Regions from separate parts of the Homo sapiens genome. Here region 2 is linked to region 1. Evidence: fine-mapped expression QTL. Tissue or cell type: esophagus mucosa. Region 1 holds a variant in brackets; the other region holds the start of a gene. All regions are shown on one strand. Distances are from middle to middle.

Evidence for each region. PIP is the estimated chance that this variant, and not a neighbour inherited with it, causes the effect.
Region 2: it holds the start of COLCA1, and the variant in region 1 is the best candidate, but not a certain one, in a credible set for the expression of COLCA1 in esophagus mucosa (GTEx, PIP 0.61).

Annotation. Positions count from the first base shown.
Region 1 is chr11:111,357,289-111,362,465 of GRCh38, reverse strand. POU2AF1 (POU class 2 homeobox associating factor 1) reads left to right here. Exons shown (of 5, transcript NM_006235.3): 2 at 3,548-3,678; 3 at 4,629-4,671; 4 at 4,756-5,021. Among named protein-coding and RNA genes, the nearest start is that of MIR4491, 12 kb to the right of the region's middle. RefSeq lists enhancers at 2,888-3,182, 3,943-4,789. The variant T/C (reference allele first, on the strand shown) is at 2,662.
Region 2 is chr11:111,302,964-111,308,140 of GRCh38, reverse strand. COLCA1 (colorectal cancer associated 1) reads left to right here and starts at 3,093. Exons shown (of 2, transcript NR_169237.1): 1 at 3,093-3,313. POU2AF3 (POU class 2 homeobox associating factor 3) reads right to left here. Exons shown (of 5, transcript NM_001271458.2): 3 at 3,159-3,213; 4 at 1,518-1,747; 5 at 1-72.

The DNA.
Region 1 (5,177 bases):
GCAGGGGGAGTGGGAGTGGGGATGACTTATGGGTACAAAAATATAGTTAGATAGAATGAATATGATCCAGTATTTGACAGCACAACAGGGTGACTATAGTCAACAATAATTTATGGTACACTTAAAAATAACTAAAAGTATAATTGGATTGTTTATAACACAAAGAGGTGACAAATGCTTGAGGGGATGGGTGCTTTATTTACCCTGATGTGATGAGTGTGCATTGCATGCCCGTATCCAAATATCTTGTGTACCCCATAAATATATACACTGACTATGTACTCATAAAGATTAAAACCAAAAATGCTGACGTGGCCATGGGGTGACCCTGAGAAAGAGTGAGTTGAGTGTGGCAGGGCAGGTGCCCTGTTCGCTGACACGTCAGATTGTACCTGGGGCCTGTGGTCATCGCTGGGCACCACCCAGCAGTAGGGAAAGTGGCAAATGGAACTTGTGCAAGAGTGACTCACCCAGAAGGAAGGTGGGGAGACTAAAACCATGTCATTTAGAAATAGCTGAAGGAATGAGAAGTCCCTTCAGACCTAGGGGGACACCTGGTATCTGTCCTCAGATTTCGGAAGGGAATATTACTACTAATACTCATGATAATCGGAGCTCACATGTATTAAATGCTCTGTGCCAAACTCTATTCCAAGCACTTCACATGCAAATCTTAAATTACCCTACAACATACATACCATTATGATCTTCACTTTATAGATGAGACAGCTGTAAATGGACTAAGAAATGTGAGTTTCATTAGAAGGTAATGGAGGGAAATATGGCATGTGTTACCATAAGTTAGCCTCAGTAGGAGGAAGAGCTGTCTGACATGATAATATCCCCCCGAAAGGAAGGTGGAAATGGCCAGAAGGAAGATAATTAAAACCACATGTATTGAGCATCTACCCTATGCCAGACATGGCCTTTGGAGCTCCCCATGTATTATTTTGGTTAATCCTCACAACCACTGTGTGAGAGAAGAATTATTATTCCCGTTTTACAAATGAGGAAATTGAAGCCCAGAGACATTAAATAAATCTAAGAACTTTCCACCAGTAAGTGACAGCCCAGATTTGAATACAGGTATGTGTGGTTCTCAAGTCTACTGTCATTGGTGTTCAGAGCAAAGGTGGAGGCGCACAGGTGGCCCCGGGGCACAGAACCAGGCTGGTTCCCCTGCTAGACACTCCTATAGCAGCCTGAATTTCACAAGTTGTGACACATTCATCTGCTGGTAACTTTTGTTGCTTGTCTTCCCCGTTAGACTGCAAGATCCACGTGGGCGGGGGCTCCATGGGTCCTGTGCAGTGCTGTACTCCTAGGCACTAGAAATATTTGAAAAAATGAATGAATACCAGTAGAGATCTCTTGTTCAGACAGGGGAAGTTAAAATAAGGATAATGAATCTCCTATTGGGATGTTATCGGGAGATTCTTATGTTAAATTAGGAATGGATTATCAGCAGTTGTAATCCCAGTATATTTTCAGAAATACTGGACAGATTTTTTTTTTTTTTTTTTGAGACAGAGTCTCTCTCTGTTGCCAGGCTGGAGTGCAATGGTGTGATCTCAGCTCACTGCAACCTCCACCTCCCAGGTTCAAGCCATTCCCCTGAGTCAGCCTCCCAAGTAACTGGGATTACAGGTGCCTGCCACCACATCTGGCTAATTTTTTGTATTTCAGTAAATATGGGCTTTCACCATGTTGGTCAGGATGGTCTTAATCTCCTGACCTTGTGATCCACTCACCTCAGCCTCCCAAGAGAGATTTTTATACATACAGATTCCTAGGCCTATATCAGCCCCCTAGAATCAGACTTTCCTGGAGCAGGACCTGTACCTGTATATTGCATCATTTCCTGGTTGATTTGCTACCTGGCCAGCTGAGGGACCTTGGAGGATGGGTCTAAAGTCCACCTGAGATACTGGGATTCCTGACCCCCAACATCTGCCCCTGGGACTCATTTCCCACTTCCTGTTGCCTCTGCCCAAGCTTCTCTCTGCCTTCTGGGCTTCAAGGCCAGGCCTTGCTCGTGGCTGGAGCCTGGAGGGAGGTCTGGTGCCGAGTCAGGCATGGGACCTTATCAGCTGGGTATTTACTGAGCAAAGTTCAACCAGGGCAGTGCTGCAGATCCGGGTTTAACAGATACCTAGGCTTCCGGGACTTTGATTCAGAGCCCAGGTCCCTGGGGCCCTTATCGGTGGATAATAATGGGCTCCCTGTGGAAGTCCTAAGGTCTAGTGTTTCTTGGCTGACCCAGGCCTGCTCTCTGAGAGCCCAGGATCCCTAGGCCACAGGCTGTCTAGGTGGGCAGCTTGTTGCTTCCCAGCCACGGCTGCTTTTCAGTTGCTCTCCCAGGCCAGGAAGGGCCCTATGCACTGGCTCTTATTTGGGTCAATGCTTTGGTTTCCTGGCTTTGATGGCAAGAGGGGAAGGAAACCTTCCCTCAGCAGCAGGTGGACACTGTCTGGCCCCAGGGTACAAGGATCACCCTTGGGTAATTGTCCCATGCCCTGAAAGTCACTGAGAACCTGGGAGCCACTTGCCTCAATCCTAAAGGTGTAGGAGAGGTGAAGGGAAGACAAATGGCAGCATGTCTTAAAGAATCACCCAATCGATTAATCAATAAGTATCAACTGAGCTTAAAACGCATGGGCA[T/C]GCCACTGGGAAGACATAGAGAAATAAGGTACAATAACTCACCTTGAGACGTTTATAATCTAGTTGTGGGTATAAGACACTTCCATCAAAAAGAATAACTATTACATAATAGACTGAATTTTTTTGAATGCCTACCCTGTACCTGAATTTATTTGAGGCATATACTGTTCTACCAATTTCCCACATCAAGTGACTTCTCTCAATATTCCTTTGATAAAGAAACTGAAGATTAAGAGGCACAGAGAGGTTTAGTAACTTGCCCAGGATCACACAGGAAGGTGGTGGCAGGGGCAGGATTTGAGGCCTGTGCTATCTGGCTCAGAGTCCCTGCTCTTATGGCTGTCCTCTACTGCCACCTATGATGAATACTAATCAGATCTGGAAATGTTTGAGAAGCTGTAGAATGTGGAAATTACTCAGGCTGCAGGGGTCAGGCAGGAGGGTTGCATTTGTCTTGTGTCAGCAAGAATCAAGAGGTTGGAAGAAGTGAGAGGGAATTCTGACCACGGAAAACCTCAACCACAGATGAGGAGGTGAGACACGCAGGAACACGTAGAGAACACAGACAGACCTTCTGGTTGGAGACAGGGTTTGTGTAGTAGGGAGTGTGCAAAGTGGTGAGAAAAATGGGTTCGGATCTCATTCTGAAGACTGTCCAATTCTAGGACAAGGAGCTGGGCCTTCGTTGTCTGGGTGCAGGGGACCCACAGAAGGTTTGGGAGTAGGAGGAGTGACAATACTGGAGAGGCATTCTAGGAAGTGTCACGTGGTTCTCCGTGTTCAAGCACGACTTAGGGGAGCAGGCAGATCCATGAGGAAATGAGCACTTTGGGGTGGGGGCTCGTCTGAGAAGGACCATGGGCTCCAGGGACATTGCTTTTCACAGCCACAGCTCCGGAGCAAGCCCCAGCCCCGGCCCGGCCATACCAGGGCGTCCGTGTGAAGGAGCCAGTGAAGGAACTGCTGAGGAGGAAGCGAGGCCACGCCAGCAGTGGGGCAGCACCTGCACCTACGGCGGTGAGAGTTTGTGTGTGTGAGAGTGTGAGTGTGTGTGTGTGAAAGAGAATGTGTGTGTCAGGGATAGTGTGAGAGTGTATGTGTGTGTGAGTATGTGTATGCGTGTGTGTATGTGTTTGTGTGTGATAGAGTGTGTGAGAGTGTGATAGTGTGAGAGAGAATGTGTATCTGCGTCAGTGTGTGAGAGTGTATGTGTGTGTGAGGGAGTGTGAGTGTGTGAGTGTATGCATGTGAGTGTGTATGTGTTTGTGTGTGATGGCGTGTGTGAGTGTGTGATAGTGTGAGAGAGAATGTGTATGTGTCAGTGTGTGAGAATGTATGTGTGTGAGAGAGTGTGTGTGTGTGAGAGTGAGTGTGAGAGTGTGAGCGTGTGTGTGAGAGAGTATGTGTGTGAGGGAGTGTGTGTGAGAGAGTGTGTGAGTGTGTGAGAGTGTGAGTGTGAGAGTGTGAGAGTGTGTGAGAGAGTACGTGTGTGAGAGAGTGTGTGTGTTTGTGTGAGAATGTGTGTGCGCGCAGGCAGATGGCTTGGGAGGTGACCAAAAGGATCAGGCAGGAAGGAGCGCAGGTCCCTTGGTGGAGGCTGCCAGGGATAGAGCTAGGGTGGAGCAACTGGGATGAGGGATCAGGGCCGGCTCAGCTGGCCCACCGAACACAGCTACTGTCAAGGCCTGAGTGAGCGAATGACTTGCATACCCTGGTGTGAGTTGGGGGCCCCCCCTGAGAAGAAGAAGACACCAGCTCCCTGAGCGCACAGACTTCCTGCTAAATAGAAACGCAAATCTCTCAAGTGTAGGTGGTGATGGTTGGGATACGGGGTGGGATGTTTTGTTCTAACCAGAGAGATTCCTATCTTCTATTCTCCTGCCCTGAGGCCCTCTGGGCAAGTTCTCTGCACAGGGCCGGTTGACGAGGGCTAAACATTGACCCTGGTCTTCTCCTCTCCCCTCTAGGTGGTGCTGCCCCATCAGCCCCTGGCGACCTACACCACAGTGGGTAAGAGTGCCCCGTAGCCCTGGTGGCCCCCAGGCCTCTCATCTGGGTGGCATCTGAAGTTCTGTAATTTCCTTCTTCCCACAGGTCCTTCCTGCCTGGACATGGAAGGTTCTGTGTCTGCAGTGACAGAGGAGGCTGCCCTGTGTGCCGGCTGGCTCTCCCAGCCCACCCCGGCCACCCTGCAGCCCCTGGCCCCATGGACACCTTACACCGAGTATGTGCCCCATGAAGCTGTCAGCTGCCCCTACTCAGCTGACATGTATGTGCAGCCCGTGTGCCCCAGCTACACGGTGGTGGGGCCCTCCTCAGTGTTGACCTATGCCTCTCCGCCACTCATCACCAATGTCACGGTATGTCACACAAAGGCAGGACTGCACCCGCCCATGCTGAGTGCACCCTTTTATAACCAGAGCTGACTTCTCGATCCTGATCTTCCTTGCTATTGATTCTCAAGATAATCAGGTCATCAGAGCTCGCCTTGGTCTCCATGGAGGCCTGCTCTGATT
Region 2 (5,177 bases), 54 kb after region 1:
CAGCTGCACTGGCGAGTAACTGTAGTCTAAGGAGCCAGAGAGAATGGAGGAATTTGAAGGTGATCCTGGGATCTAGAGAAATGACAACCAAGAAACAAAGAGCTTAATAACTTAGACAGGATCAAAGAACTGAACAGTGTGGGTTTACCAATGCAGAGTGAGAAAATGAGGGGTAAAAAACCAAATCAAACGAAACAACACCCAACCCAAGTCTGCAGAAGTAATTTTATTTGCTGACTACATGATTTCATGACACCACAATCTATAGTTACCTATTTCTTTCCAAACAATAAATTGCCTTGCTTCACTGGCTTCCTTTGTTATAATCCTACTTTAGAGGGTGCTCGTTCTGAAACCACAAAATCCCATTGTGCTTCAAGTCACCTGCATATCAAATCCTGCTGTATGCCACAATCTAAGCTGTAGGTGGCACCCTGGATGTTTCTCCACACCCTCACCATGAAGAATCAGGTGATCATGCAAAGGCATAACTTGGATCTTCAAGGATCTTGGAGTATCCCTGGCATATGCCAAGATGTGTCACTACCTGTCTCGCCACTAAAGTCTTGTTCCCTGGAGTGAGAGCTACTGTCTGTTTTCTCTTAAGCAAGTCTACAATTGTTACTGAGAAAACCTAACTTGGAGGCTGGGAAGGAACTGGGTCACTGGGGCCCCATATTTTCCCCGTGACAATGTGCATATTCTGCAGAGTTAATTTCCCATCCGCTCTAAAATTTAGTCTGATGCCCACACAGACTTTTGACAATCCAAAGGCAAAAAGTATTTACATTCCTTAAAAAAGAAAACTTTACAATTTAAGGTTTACAAAACAAACCTGTGAGTCTCTAAAAGACAACTGAAATAACTAGTTTCCACTAATAGAAACCTTACTTCATTTTGAAGGATAACACATTTTCAAACATTTGAGATCCACCGAGAACAACCAATTTAATTTTTTTCAAAGATTACGGCTTCATTTTTACTAACCATCTCAGACCCAAATGAGTTATTGTGCTTATAGCAGACTCAAACTATCAGTTAGTAGAGCCAGTTCAATGACAAAACAAAGCAAAACCTCCCCCTAATGAAATGAAGTTTGTTACCATATATACACAGCCTTAATTCCATTTCCAAGAACTCAAAATTCCATCAAAAAATCCAAGAGCCATTGTTTAAACCACTGACTTCCAATTAGTAGGTCTCTTGACTTTACAGTTTAAAAAACATTAAATGAATATTGCCAGGAACCTCTTTTTATTGCTACCCACCAACTTACTTGGTGGCCGAAAAATCTAAATCTTGGGAAATCTAAATTACGTGTGTATCCAAAGGTTTATGCCCTGCAGTGTGTGGCTACTTCTATACATTGACTTTTAAATTCTTCTCTGCTTGTTTCCTTGGATGATTTCCTTGCTGATAGTTTTTGTATGATTTCCCACGGGATGGTGCAAACTCACAAAGCACTATTACCCCATAGTTAGACACAATCAGGTATATAAAGAACTGAGAAAAATTACCAGGCTCTGGTTAAAGCAGAAAGGGGTGGCCTGGAAGCTGTCTGGGAAATGGTGTGGAGCACTTTGTGTGGAATTGAGCAAAGGCTCCGGGTGCATCTCTGTCTGAAGGTAGGAATCAAAGATCTGGTCGAGGCAGCTTGAGTTTTCTTCACATGAAACACAACTGGAAAATTCTCCCCGTTGCAAATAATTGGGCGTGGAAGAAATTGGTTCAGGCTCAAAATACAGTCCTAGAGGAGAAAGGAAAAAGGCAGGTTTTTGCATAAAAATTGCAAAACACAGATTTGAATGGAGATCTATACTCTGAATATTTACTATGTCTAGGGGGAAAGGGGGCTTAACAAATCCAGAAAAGTAAACGGGAATGCAATTTTGACTCTTTAGTTGTCCTAGCTAATTCAAGCTCCAGGGAAATGAACATGGTTAATAATGTGGAAACTGGCTGTAAAACTGGTTAGGGCAAAAATAAAAGGATGGTGACCCAATTTGTGTCCAAGTGTCACAGTCAAATAATGGCTCAAACTTCCCCTTTCTTGGGCTGTAAAACCATGGACATCCAGCCCCTACCGGCAGTTCACGTAAACCTCTCAGAAGTAACTGACAAAGTTGTTGAGGCTTTGAGAAAACTTCTGATGCTACGGGAAATAATTCTTTTGACTTATGGTGATTGCTTTTTTGAACTTTTCACTCTTACTCAGTAACTTAAGTTTGGAGGAGAGAATTTTGAGAAGTGATTTAAATGAGAATGCAAATGATAATCATGGAAACCAGGAACATAGAGTACCAATTAACACTATTGGCTCGGAAGTACAAAAAGCAAAAATGTTTTCTCAGTGAACATGTTAACATCATGATGTGATCAAAGTAAGTTGTTAAACATCAAACAAAGATAATCAGTAAACATTACTCCTTTTCCATTTTATTATTAATAGGCCCAATTTGTGATAATTATCTGTAAATGCTGGAAGAAGAGAGGATTAGAGTGTGCTCATCAAAGGGACTAAAGGACACTGTGTTCTTCTTGAGGTCTCAAGTTCCTTTAAGGTGAAGCTACGGTGACACATTTAGTGGGGAGAGGCCATAGGCAGAGGTTTCCTTATATACGACCTCCTTAAACTCTTAGCTGTTGAGTAGCAGAGGTAGGAGTGTTTATGTAATCGAGTTATTCTTATTGGGCTGAGAAAACCTACACTTGTTTGAACTGCTTTCTGGGAACAGAGAAGGGGAGGGAAGCCCCTGTCGGCTGGAAACTAAAGGAACAGAGCAAAGGCATTATTTGAGTGTCTTGGGATGTTCTGTATTCCATCTAACAGTGCACTAAAAAAAGATAAGTTCCTGAGAACAATTCTGATTTTGTAGTTCAGTTTAGTTACTTGGCGATGAGGAACTGGAATAAATGTGAAGAACAAACTCTTGAGACAATATAGCAGAGAGTAGAGAATTCAGAAATGAAGACAACATTTATGCTTGTTTTCTTGCTGGGCTTGCATGTGGAGTGACTATGCCTTTTTCACCTTCTGATTGGTTGGATTCCAATTAAATGGTGGTGCCTATCTTAACCCCTGAATCAAGACTGAAAGACTTTTGAGATGGACTTTTGAAAGAGTGTTTGAGGGAACTGTTAATGCTGGCTGTACTGACCTGCAGAAGATGGTGCAACTGGGTCTGAAAGGTGGACACTGCTGCCTCCGGACCGCTGTCAAAGCAAGAATATCACCGTGAAGCAGGCTGAAAGAAATGCTCTGAAGGGAAAGCTAAGACATTTTGATGAGGACTATGTTTCTTTCTGCTATAAGGTAAGCCAGATTCTTCCTTCTCAGAAAAAGTTGCTTTCTTTTTTTTTTTCAATGTTTGACAAATTTTTGTACAAAATATATTGTAAAAAACAAGTGAAAGGGAAAGTGTCAACAAATATTTTATAGAATTTGAAAGACAGGTGCATAGAATTGCGGTAGGTGTATTAAGTCCGTGTAGAATTTAAAATGCCTTTTGACGTTTATAATCCTTTTAAGATTCAATCTGGAAAATTGCATTGGAACAATGAAAACCTGAAATCGAATCATAAAACAGACTTCTTAAATACAACCAATATTATGTTTTATCTAGATCCAATATTTATGTTTGCTTGCTTGGGGAGTTTTTTTCCTAATATCAGATTCTTCTACTTAAATTTTAAAAGTGATTAATTTTTAGTAAAAAATTAATGTAAATAATTTTATGTGGTAAAAATGTAACAGTTTGAGAAAATGCAGCAAAAGGCTTCCTATTAAACTATTCGATTTAAAATTATTAAGGACTAACATTTATTTAATCTCAACTATCTATGGCTTAGTCAATTATTTTTCTCAAAAATTTCATATACCATCTGGCTACTTAGCCTTAGGGAGTCGTTTCCCCAAAGAACACAATTCTTAATTTTGTTAATTCTGAGTAGCTAAAAATATTCACATGTTCTTAGTATACATGAAATATTAAAATAGAAAATATTTTCTTAAAGCTGTGGTTGGTGAGTTGGAACCTACTTTCATTCTAGTTAATGGTCGGGAATTATTCCAGTACTTTGTATGTTTTGTACTACTATCTATAAAAGTTGCTTTTATTTAAACTACTGTATTTAAATACTTAAAAGTTTATGAGACTGCTCTTTTTAACTATTCAAAGTAAAGCAGCCTGCATTTTTCAGTTGAATTAATAATTATACTGAGTAATTTAGGATTTTTTTTTTTTTTTTAAATTTCAGGTGTGGCTTTAAAGTTTAAAGGTACCCGTATTGCTCTGTGATTCTGTGCTGGGAAGCCGAGCTCACCACACCTCTTTTGGGTTACAGGGCATACTCACTCCCATACTCTGAGCCACAGGGAGAGCTGTGCAGGCAGCCACTGCTGAAACAGGAGGCAGTATTAATTTTGAAAACGATCCATGCTGTAATGTCATGAACCAGGAAGCTGGAATCCTTTACCAGCTCTTTATGCAAATATTTGGCTGCAGCTTGAGCTGAAGGACTTGGAAGGAGTGGGTATTAAAAAATCTGCCTCATTGTAGAGCTTTCCTTAACTCCATTCCTCCCCCGGATTGGCCTGTTTGTCTGCCTCCACCCCATGTTATCTCCCTGAGGTGTGTTTACAATATCCTACTTGATATTATCTTTCTAGTCATGGGTTCACTTTCTACTTTGCTCCAAGAATACAAAGAAAGGCAACTCTCTCTTAGATTTCAAACAGCACAAAAATTCACAGTCTACAATTTATAAAAACACATCAAGGCTGTTTAAAAAATTAATGATTTAAAAAAAGAAAGGTAAATGATATCTTTTGATAACGACTAACTCAAGTTTCCTTTTACCCCAAAGGCAAGTGTGTGTGTGTCTGTGTGTGTGCGTGCATGCGCATGTTTGCAAATTGATCTGGCTGAAATAAGTTTTTTAAAATCGAGTGTTCCAATCCGGCATACACACAGTTTCTTCCGGCACTGCTTGAAGAATATTTGAATTCTTTACTGAATGTCTGTCTCAACCTATAACTTCCATTCGTGATTGCCTTCTTAAAATTTTAAATTGTGGATACTACACTGACTTTATAACAAATTAAGATAGATTTCTTGCCACTTTGTAGTATTTGATATAATTAACCCTCTCCTTGGCTTAAAGTTTCCCAGAGGCAT